2 separate regions of the Homo sapiens genome follow, and region 2 is linked to region 1. Evidence: fine-mapped expression QTL. A gene starts in region 1. The other region holds a variant in brackets. All regions are shown on one strand. Distances are from middle to middle.

What was found. PIP is the estimated chance that this variant, and not a neighbour inherited with it, causes the effect.
Region 2: its variant is the best candidate, but not a certain one, in a credible set for the expression of OR52K1 in whole blood (TOPMed, PIP 0.62).

The regions. Positions count from the first base shown.
Region 1 is chr11:4,479,448-4,484,834 of GRCh38, forward strand. It overlaps OR52K1 (olfactory receptor family 52 subfamily K member 1), which reads left to right and starts at 3,199. Exons shown (of 2, transcript NM_001005171.3): 1 at 3,199-3,729.
Region 2 is chr11:4,449,777-4,455,163 of GRCh38, forward strand. OR52K2 (olfactory receptor family 52 subfamily K member 2) reads left to right here. Exons shown (of 1, transcript NM_001005172.2): 1 at 1-585. The coding sequence ends at 508. Among named protein-coding and RNA genes, the nearest start is that of OR52K2, 3.2 kb to the left of the region's middle. The variant C/A (reference allele first, on the strand shown) is at 2,714.

The sequences.
Region 1 (5,387 bases):
GTGCAGGAGACAAGAGTATTGCAAGAACCTACACTCTTGCTTCCCCTTATATTCCATCACTGCTCCCATGAATCCCTCAGACACAAAGACAAATGCCTCATGTAGTCAACACCTCTTGATTATTTTGTCTGAGAATAGTTGGGGCAGGTGGGCAGCTAAAAAATAAACACTAAGTTGTAACCACATATAAACAAACATGGAAAAGAGCATGAATTTTAAAAGGTATTTCCAACAAGAGAAATCTTATTTTCCCATTGACTTATACGGGGAATAACATCATCCTTAAGGTCATATCTATCCCCAGTGAAGAAATAATTTTGTTCCCAGAACAAGTCCAGTAGTATAAGGATCCCATAGACAGGTAATATATCAACATAACATTAGCACAGCCAGGATTAGTCACAAATAGTAAAAGGAAAATTACCTTCTCTATGAGCTCATTTGAGTTTAGCACACAATCAAAACATGAATAAGAAATATGAGTAGCCTACAGGCACATATAATTTTATACCCATATAGATGGGTATATAGATTAGGATAAAGGAAACTTGATGCAGTTATCTAGGCCTAGATGCAATACTTCTAATCACTCAAAAACTAGGTCATCCCAACATTCCAAGCTAGGACACAGAGGTGCACATCATCCTTAAAGTAGGATCAATGCTTGAGTATAGGATCCTGTTCTGCCTAGCAACCCTCACAACACCTTCCCACCTACGTGTTCCTCAAGCAAGGAGTCTTGGTGTTATCTTTGATTTCTTTTTCTCTCACAGCCTGGAGCTAATTTTTCAGGAATTCCCACTGGCACTTAAAAAATAGATATAAAATCTGATACATCTGATTTCTCTCCATATATATGATTAACACATTGATTTGGAAACACCATCTTCTCTCTGGATGCCTACAATAGCATCTGTAATCCTTTCTCTGCTTTCATCCTCATCATCTTGTGCTGTTCCCATTAAGTCAGAAGCAATATCTAAAAAACATATGTCAAATAATGTCAATTCACTGCTCAACCTTGGCTTTTATTCCGAGAGAAATTATGAACCTTTGCAAAGTGAAATCCTTACATGGCTGATATGGTTTGGCTCTGTGTCCACACCCAAATCTCCTCTCGAATTGTAATCCCCACATGTCAGAAGAGGGGACCTGGTGAGAGGTGATAGGATCATGGGGGCAGATTTCCCCCTTGATGTTCTGTTTAAAAGCGTATGGCCCCGCCCCCATTCCCTTTTTCCTGCTCCGCTGTGGTAAGACCTGCTTGCTTCCCCTTCATCTTCTGCCATGACTAAGTTTCCTGAGGCCTCCCAGCCATGCTTCTGTACAGCCTGCAGGAACTGTGAGTCAGTCAAACCTCTTTTCTCCATAAAAGTACCCAGTCTCAGGTAGTTCTTCATAGCAGTGTGAGAACAGACTGATACAAAGGCCTACAATGTTCTGTGTGATCACAGCTAACTGGAAAAAAAAAAAAAGAAAGCAGCACCCAGGTATGGGTAGGGCACATTATATTCACAGGATCAACAATAAGACTGATATTAATAGATACTTGACTTCAAAAAAAGCAAGTGAAGGCAGAATACAATTAATATACTAAAGTGGATGAAAGAAGAATTGCCCATTTAAAAACCTATTCAAATTGAAATAGAATTTTAGACAGAGGCCCGGGAGGTGAGTCATCTTTCACAAACAAAGATGACTAAGATAATTTTACAAATGAGCAAAAGTTGATGGAATGTGTCACTATATGGCCTGTAATAAAAGCAAAAATAAAAGTAGTTTTTCATGCAGAAAAAAAATGATCCAGATGGAAACATGAAAAACCTGGAGGGAATGAAGAACACCAAAACAAAGATGCATATGAATGTAAAAGAATCTAGATTTTACAAAAGAAAAGATAGGGTGGGGAGGATGTCAATGAATTAAACAGTCTAAGTGTTCCAATATTCCAGCAGTTATCTCCAGCATGGTTTGAGCCAATGGCCCCACTGCCCACTCCCCCACTCCATGTGCTTCTTATCCTGCTCCTATGATGTCAGGATTGCCCATTCAGAATGGAGTTGGGGGCAAATTAAGGTGCTTTGTTCACAAAAACACTGTCTATTCTATCTGGCTCTTGTCTGGCTTTTATCTGGCTTTTGCCATATTAGGTTTTGGTGAGGTGCTTTTCATACAGGCTGTATCCCCTTGGCCTAGCTGTACATTGTTAAAACTATGTAGGAATTCCACTTTATCCCAGCATCCCAAAAGATCAGACTTATCATGGAGGAGTGCTGAGTCCACACCCTTGAGGGCCAACTATTACAGAAGGGGAAGTTAGTTCCAGGGTACCTGTGTGGGAAGGGAGTGAGATGACTGAGTTACAGCGTTCTGAGATTGCTTTTAAAAATTATGGGGAATTAGGGTAGACAAAATCCATGGAGAACTCTAGTGAAAAGCATCTTCTCAGGTCCTTGAAAAATAGCACACATTAAGTCAGCTGTAGGTAGAAAGATCACTCTTTATCATTTATAGATGATTGGTAATTTCCTAATTATTAATAAGGAATCACATTCATAGTGGCCTCTTGTTTATCTACTTAGATCCTCCTATCCTTGTGAGTTAGAAAATATTGTAAAAGTTATCTCTACCTTAGAGATAAGAAAAATAGATCAGGGATCAGACAGGTGCCAGATCAAGTTCACGAGCTGGTTATTAATGCATATCTCAGGCCAATATGAAATATGAATGCAAAATAAAATGCCTAATGGATGACCTTGGCCTGGTCAGGCTGGACTCCCTGCCCTTTCAAGTCAGTTCTGACAGGAGTTGCCTGCAGTGTATATTTTCTGATGAGGCTGGCTTTCTTTGAAGACACTGTAAGGATAAAGAGTAAGGAGAGGCACAGCAAACACCAAGACACAAGCCAGCTCCACCTGAAAGTCTCACAGCCTCTGGCAAGTAGGGCATGACCCCTGGTAGGCACAACTCAGTGCCACTAGCTGGGGAGGAGGCATGGGTTGTAGGAAACAAGGATACAGTCCCCTTGGGTCAGGGGAAGTCCCCTTGCATCAACCCAGAGAGAGGAGGCCAGAGATGTCTCTGAGGACTCTGCTCAAGTGCAGCAGTTTCTGCTTCCACAGCCTTCTGGGAGAAGGGCAGAGGTTGGTGAGGATTAAAGCCAGCTGCTCGCTTCCCAGCTTCCTCCTTCTAAGACTCCTTAGACTGAAAGAGGAAGGCGGCACTGGTGCTGCATGAAGCTAATGAAAAGGGCCCAGGATTGTAAGTCAGACTGAGGACTGTGGATACAGCTGCAACTTAGGGAAATAGAAAACAAGTGATGTTATTGGGGTGAGCAGGAAGGTGGGAGTGAGCTGGAAGGTGGGGGCACTGTCAATTTCTTCCCATAGCCATTCCTGATCTTAGGCATCAGCTCTCCAACCCTGTTATTGCTTCTACTCTGGTCCTTCAATAGAGGGAACAGAAGTCTCGATAGTCCCACCCAACTGTTTGGTACACAAACTCCAGATGCTCTCCCCACCACAGAGGATGCCTGCTTCCGTCCTATGCCAAACACTGTGGGCCATCTCCAAGAAGTCTTAGTTGATTATTCCAGTTTGGATCTGTCACTTCTCACCTCCTGTCATTGCTTTTTCTAACCCCTGGCAAATGCCCCATCCCAGTTAAAGGGCTTCTGCATTAGTCAAGAGGAAGAAAACGAGGCCTGAACTAGAAAGATGGCAGGGAAAGGTAAGAAATACCTTATCTTTGAGGTTCTTCTACCAGAAGCAGTCCTGAAGTATCTTGATTATGTGATTATCCTTCCTTGTCTGGTTCTAAGTTTTTCAGATATGTCATTCTGATATCCTTTTAAGATAAAGGTATAGGCAACCAAATAGATTCAGTATTAATTGAGTCCATTCTGGGTACAGAGGCCTTTTTTAAGGAGAAATAGAAGATAAATCCTTTGAGCATGGACATCTTAGTTCTGAAAACAATGAACAGTCTGGACAAAACTTGCACTACAGAGGAGGTCTTAGTTTCTGGATATTAGGGGAAGAAGACTGGCTCCATTCACACTCCTACTCAGAGCACTTCATTCTGAGGAGTTGATTTTAGATGAACTTCAAAGGAAGTAAGATTTATGAACTATTAGACACCCTGTCTTTTCAGGAAGAAATCTGATAGAAGAGATGCCTTTTTTTCTTGTATGAAGATGGGTAGACAGCTCACAGGGTGGTTAGTGATGTTTAAAAGTTGAATGGAGGAATCTAGGGGGACATGGAGACTCAAAGTAAAACATGTGGGTTTTGTGGAAAATACATATTGAGATAAGGTAAAGATGCAGCAGGTTTGTGGGATTATTTCACAGTATTTTAGAAGAGTTTCTTAGACGCCAGGCATGTTTCTAGGTACTGATATGTACTTGAAAATAAAAATGTCTGTTGTCATAAGAGCTTGTTCCTGACAAAAATGCACAAACATTATGAATATTTAAAATAGTATTTTCCATTAAGAAGAGAATTTTATTCTGATGCAGGTAACAAAGTATTGTAATCGGGATGCTTAGAACCTCCATTCTGGATGCATTTTAAATGAGAAGATAACCCAAATTCTGAGCTTAAATCACATGAGGGGAGTAGTATTCTGAGAAATATGTCTTCCAATAATCTAGTAGTCTGTTTTATTTAGTGAAATGTTCCACACCTATGTATGTTAGAGGCTGGGTTTACAGAAGGAAAATAGGTAGAGTTTCTTAACTCCAGTCCCTTCACTTCATGATATGGTGGGTAATTGTTGAAGGATAAATATTGGAGAACAAAGTGGAACTTTGTGTACTTGTTAGGATTCTTTTGTAGCAGTAGTTGCTGGGAGATGCTGTGGCTTGAACAAGGGTGATGGTGTTGGAAGGGTGGAAGTGTTGGAAACGCAATGGGCAACGTGGAGATTTACTATGTAGGATGATCCAGTGTGCTTGCTGATGATTAAATATGATGCAGGAAGAAAAGAGAAGAATCCAGGATGACTTGATTCTAGGTTGAGCAACTGGTTGGGCAGGATGTTACGTTCTGAGATATGGGCAGCACAAGAAGAGAAGTAGTCATGATTTCTGCCTCAGGCATGGCAGGTTTGACATATCTGTGAGGAAGATATGTGGGGATATCGAGTATGGAGTTGGATATCCTAGTCTGGAGCTTACAAGGAATGTAAGGTATGTAAATTTGTGTTTGTTTCAGGATATGTTTATATTCTCAATGATCAACCAGCAGACCACCTAGAAAGATGCAATATTCACGGTCTTTTCAGGAGCAGTATTCTCTTTCTTCGTCTAAGTTTCAACTTTTCCCCTACTACTGGATAATTTGCTTCAGCTAAAGACATGATACTTCTGTTCTAAAACACACAGA
Region 2 (5,387 bases), 30 kb before region 1:
TGGCATGGCTGCTGTGGCCCGGGCTGTGACACTAATGACTCCACTCCCCTTCCTGCTGAGATGTTTCCACTACTGCCGAGGCCCAGTGATCGCTCACTGCTACTGTGAACACATGGCTGTGGTGAGGCTGGCGTGTGGGGACACTAGCTTCAACAATATCTATGGCATCGCTGTGGCCATGTTTATTGTGGTGTTGGACCTGCTCCTTGTTATCCTGTCTTATATCTTTATTCTTCAGGCAGTTCTACTGCTTGCCTCTCAGGAGGCCCGCTACAAGGCATTTGGGACATGTGTCTCTCATATAGGTGCCATCTTAGCCTTCTACACAACTGTGGTCATCTCTTCAGTCATGCACCGTGTAGCCCGCCATGCTGCCCCTCATGTCCACATCCTCCTTGCCAATTTCTATCTGCTCTTCCCACCCATGGTCAATCCCATAATCTATGGTGTCAAGACCAAGCAAATCCGTGAGAGCATCTTGGGAGTATTCCCAAGAAAGGATATGTAGAGGGTGAGGTGGAGAAAGAATGGGTTGGCTTGTCTGCTGGAGTTGGAGACAGGCTATGGTAGAATGTGCACGGCTGCCAGGATCTTCATGTTTAGTTTTTTCTTGGAAAAAAAAAAAATGATGTCCTGAAACTCAGAGCCACCAGTCTGTTCAGGACTCATGGGTCTGTGTCCTCTGGTAGCCTGTGGATTGAATGTGCTGACTGTGCTGTCTTCTCACAGTGCCCTCACCCCTATCAGTAACTTGACAGAGACTTGACCCATGGGTCTCCAGGTGACTTCACCGAAAGACACAAAGATGCTTCCAACTTCATTTGCTGAAGAGAAGACTTTGAAAATCTGAGTTTCTTTTCTTAGTCATTGGGAATTTGGTGAACTATCTACTCAGGACCTGGGTGAGGGCCAACAGTATATCTGACATAGGAATCCTTCATTCATTCTGACTGGTGGTGTCCAGCTTCTGATGAAACACTCAGTGTTAGGAAGTTTGAAACATTCCAGGGCTGCAGGTTCTGAGTAAGACACCTATGCTTGCTAGAAAATCATTTTTTCACCTAAGCCAGTATGTGTATTCTTTTGCTTATATTTACCAATCCATCCTTATGTCCAATTCCTTTTATTAAGTACTTTGAATAAGACATGTCCTCTGGCTTTATGTTTCATGCAACTCTTTCTTTGCACATAGATGTATCTTATGTTTTCAAGAATGAGAATGGCTCATTTATTTACTAATTCCACCAAATCTGTGATAGGGGATGGGGACACATATACTAAATTAGGGGTGTCAGACTTGTGTATTTGTCCTAAGACAGAGAAGGAAATGATAATTATGATAGATTCTGTTCTCTGAAATTTCCATCCCAAGGCCCAGCATAATAAAAGAAGAGCAAGACCAAGCAGATAGGAGGCAAGAATATTATGTTTCTCTTTTCCTGTCTCATGTGAACTTACCTACTATATAATTCTCTATTAATCCTGACAACACAGCTAAGCTTTTCACACAAGCCCTGTATAAATACATTGTTCTGCTGTTATCTTCTGACCCACTTGTTTCCTCAGATATTATTGCTTAGAAATTATATATCTCTTTTGCTATCACTGTATCTTTCTCTATTTACCTGTCTATATTATTTAGCCTTGAAAGATAATTTCCAAGCCTATTTCAGGTGGGGTGTAGAAGGTTGGAAGCTGTCCAGGAGGGAAGAGTATAGCAAGAACCTAGAGTTTTACTTCCCCTTATATTCCACCTCTGCTCTTATAATTCCCTTTGACACAAAAACAAATACCCCAGAGAAATAATGTATTACATAAAAAATTGCTACATGCTAGATATATATATTTTTGGAGTATATGTGATATTCTGATATATTCATATAATAGATAATGATCAAATCAGGATAATTGGAATATCCATGACCTTAAATGTTTCTTTTATGCTAGGAACATTAAAATTATTCTCTTCTAGCTATTTTGATATATACAGTAGATTGTTTTCTATAGTCCCTACTGATTTCTTGAACACTACATCTTGTTATTTTTTATATCTAGCTGTATTTTTATACTCAATTAATCTCTTATCCTCCCTGCCTCCCTTCCCAGCCCCCAATAACCACCAATCTGCTCTCTATTTTCATGAGCTGTACTTAGCATCCACATGAGTGAGAAATACAATAATTGTCTTTCTGTACCTGGCTTGTTTCACTTAACTTAATGACCTACAGTTTCATCCACGTTGCTGCAAGTGACAGGATTTCATTCTTTCTTATGACTAATATTCCATGTGTATCATATTTTTCTTTATCCATTCAGATATTAATAGCACTTACATTGATTCCATGTTTTGGCTATTGTGTCTAGTACTAAATATAGGAATACAGATATCTCTTTGACATATTGATTCCTTTCTTTTGAATAAATACCTAGTAGTGGGATTACTAAATCTCATGGTAGTTATATTTTTAGTATTTTGAGGAACTTCCATACTGTTTTTCAGAGTGGTTGTATTAATTTGCATTCCCTCCAGAATTGTTGAGGACTAGATATGCTAATGGCAGCACAAGGAAGACTTTGTTCAGCCTTAGATGAAAAGTATTGCTTTTGGGTAAACCAACTGTGAAAAGTACAGGACAACATCACACGACTTCCAAATCAAGCCTCCATTTATTATGGGAACTTGCCTCTCAGGGTTGGTTAGATAGGGAAGGAG[C/A]CTGGAAATGGTTCTCCTGGGTTCTTTCCTTTTTAGGACCACTTGTTATTCTCCTAGTTTTGCACCTTTTTGGTTCAGGTCTTCTAAATTCTAAACCCAATTTGTCTCCTCTCACCCCCAGGCCATCAAGCTCCAGATGGTCCTCCGTGAGGTATACTGTCCTCTCAATATTCAAGAGGTACCCTTCTACAGGGAACCGCTAGACTGCTCATCAGTGGACAGAAAGTAGGCAAAATTCTGCCCCTGGACCTGGCTGGATACCACTTTTGCTAAGCCACTGAGTCACCCTCCTGCCCTGACAGCAAGAGGCCAAGACCCACAGAACCACCACCACCACCCCTCTGTCAGCAGAAAGCAGTTACAAAAGACTGACCTTCATCCATTTTCCTCCAAAGATTTGGGGTCTTGGGCTCTTGAGTGGGGGGAAACATTACAGGTAGTTAGACAGGCATGAGTGGGGCAGGAGGGGGCCCTACCACCTACCCACCAGGAATGTCTGACTATAGTCAAGTGATGGTTGGGCAGTTACCACACTGCCCCTCTAAAAATGATAACTTGGCCATCAGTGCCAGGGAGAGACAATCTCCCGATGGTCCAAGCTGCCACACTAAAGTGTTAATTGAATTCAGGTACCTAAGAGAGGCAACTTCCCAAACAGATGAAAATACTTGAGATTGGTAATCAGTTTCCAGTAAAATCACAGGAAATGAGCAAGTGAGCCTGGGCATGTTCATTAAAAAACAAAGTGGTGGAGTATGACCTTCCAGAGGCATTCTGTCAGAAAACTGAAGAAAGCCTCAGATGGGCATGCGTACAACTTCTTAAACACACTGCGCATGCTCACTTCCTAAGGGTAAGGAGGGCACTGTGCATTCAGGCAGCCCACCCTAAGGGAAGAATCATGGGAAAGGGGTGCAAGACCCTGGAAGTGGGCCATCTTATAAAGTCCCAGGATCAAGATTAAGTGGGGCACTTGTCCTTCAAGTCGCCTGCTTGGGTCTCTTCCAAGTGTACTTTCCTTTCTTTCCTGCTCTAAGGCTATTTTTTTTTTTTTTTTTTTTTTTTTTTTTTTTTTTTTTTGAGATGGAGTCTCTCTCTGTAACCCAGGCTGGAGTGCAATGGCATGACCTCGCTCATTATAACTACCGCTTCCTGGTTTCAAGCTATTCTTCAGTCGCAGCCTCCCAAGTAGCTGGGACTACAGGTGCCTACCACCATGCCTGGCTAATTTTTCTATTTTTAGTAGAGACGGGGTTTCACTTTGTTGGTCAGGCTCATCTCGAACTTCTGACATCAGCTGATCCACCCACCTCAGCCTCCCAAAATGCTGGGATTACAGGTGTGAGCCACTGTACCTGGTGCCTGCTCTAAAGCTTTTTAATAAACTTCCACTCCTGTTCTGAGACTTGCCTTGGTCTCTTTTTCTGCCTCATGACCCTCAAAATTCTTTTTTCTGAGGAGGCAAGAATTGAGGTTGCTGCAAACCTGTACAGATTCACTGCTGATAACTTGGATACCTTATATACGCATAACAGAAGCAGATATGGGACTAGATATTGGTGTTAGAACAACTAAGTTCCTCTTCAAAACTTAACTTTCTTGTTATAAGTTGTAAGATTGTAAATTAGCCCTTCTCCCTGCTTTGGCCTTCAAAGTCCTCATCTCACTACCTTATTTGGAAGAAGTTTCAAACTTCCTTTTTCTCTCTGTTCTGTGACCAACCCTTCCCTCCTTGCTGCACCCAGATATGCCTAGACATGCCTTCCCTCCTGCCTAGTTAATAACAGTCTCTCCCTCCCCTCCTCCCTTTGCAAATTGTGCATTTACTCCATTTGGAAAAGTTTAAGTCTTTTACCCTATTTGGAGAAGTTTAAGTCTTAGCCAATCTGGATAGCTTAGATTGTGAGGTCCAACTGCAGCCAATGGGGAAAGGACACAGAAACAGGAATTAGGGATAAAAACCCCTTTTCTCCTTTGTTTGGTGTGCTCTTGCAATCGTGGCTGATGCAGGTAGCACTGTTCTGCAGAAGTAAATTGCCATTCTGAGACAACTTTTTGCCTGAGTGCTGGTTCTTCTTTGTGGCATCAAGCATTTGTTTCTAACAATTTGGGGGCTCATCAGGGATCCCATTCTCCTCTGGGGAAGGGTCTGCAAACCCCTGTCATGAGGAGATGCATCCCGCTGCCTCATTGCAGTGGCCTCAGGAATAAGGAATTGAGCCCCACCCAGCGTGATGAATAAAACCAGGACTCTCAGCAACATGGGAGGAAAAGGCCTACAAATACTGCAGTGACCAGGTAACTGTGCACAGACTGTGGTAAGAAAAACCATAGGGGCAGTAAAGTATTTCTTGGTGGTCAGGGCATCCTGGAGGTTGAAAAGGTGTGGGTGAGCTGCACAATTGAGTGCGAAGCCAGTGTGGTCCTGATCTGCAGTTCTGTGGTCACCTCATATGGCTTACGCTGGATTCCTGTCGTGGGGTTTACATCAACATGCCAATGCTAAGAGGGACCTAAATTCACTCTGTGGAAGCAGCCAGAGGTGGATGAAGCAAAAGCAAAGGAGTGCAAGAAACCTCCAGTAAGGGGGTTGAGCCTCTAGAGTAGAGGGTACAAGAAATCTCTAGTAAGAGATGTTGACCCCCCACTTAGGGGTCACACTCAGGAAACACCT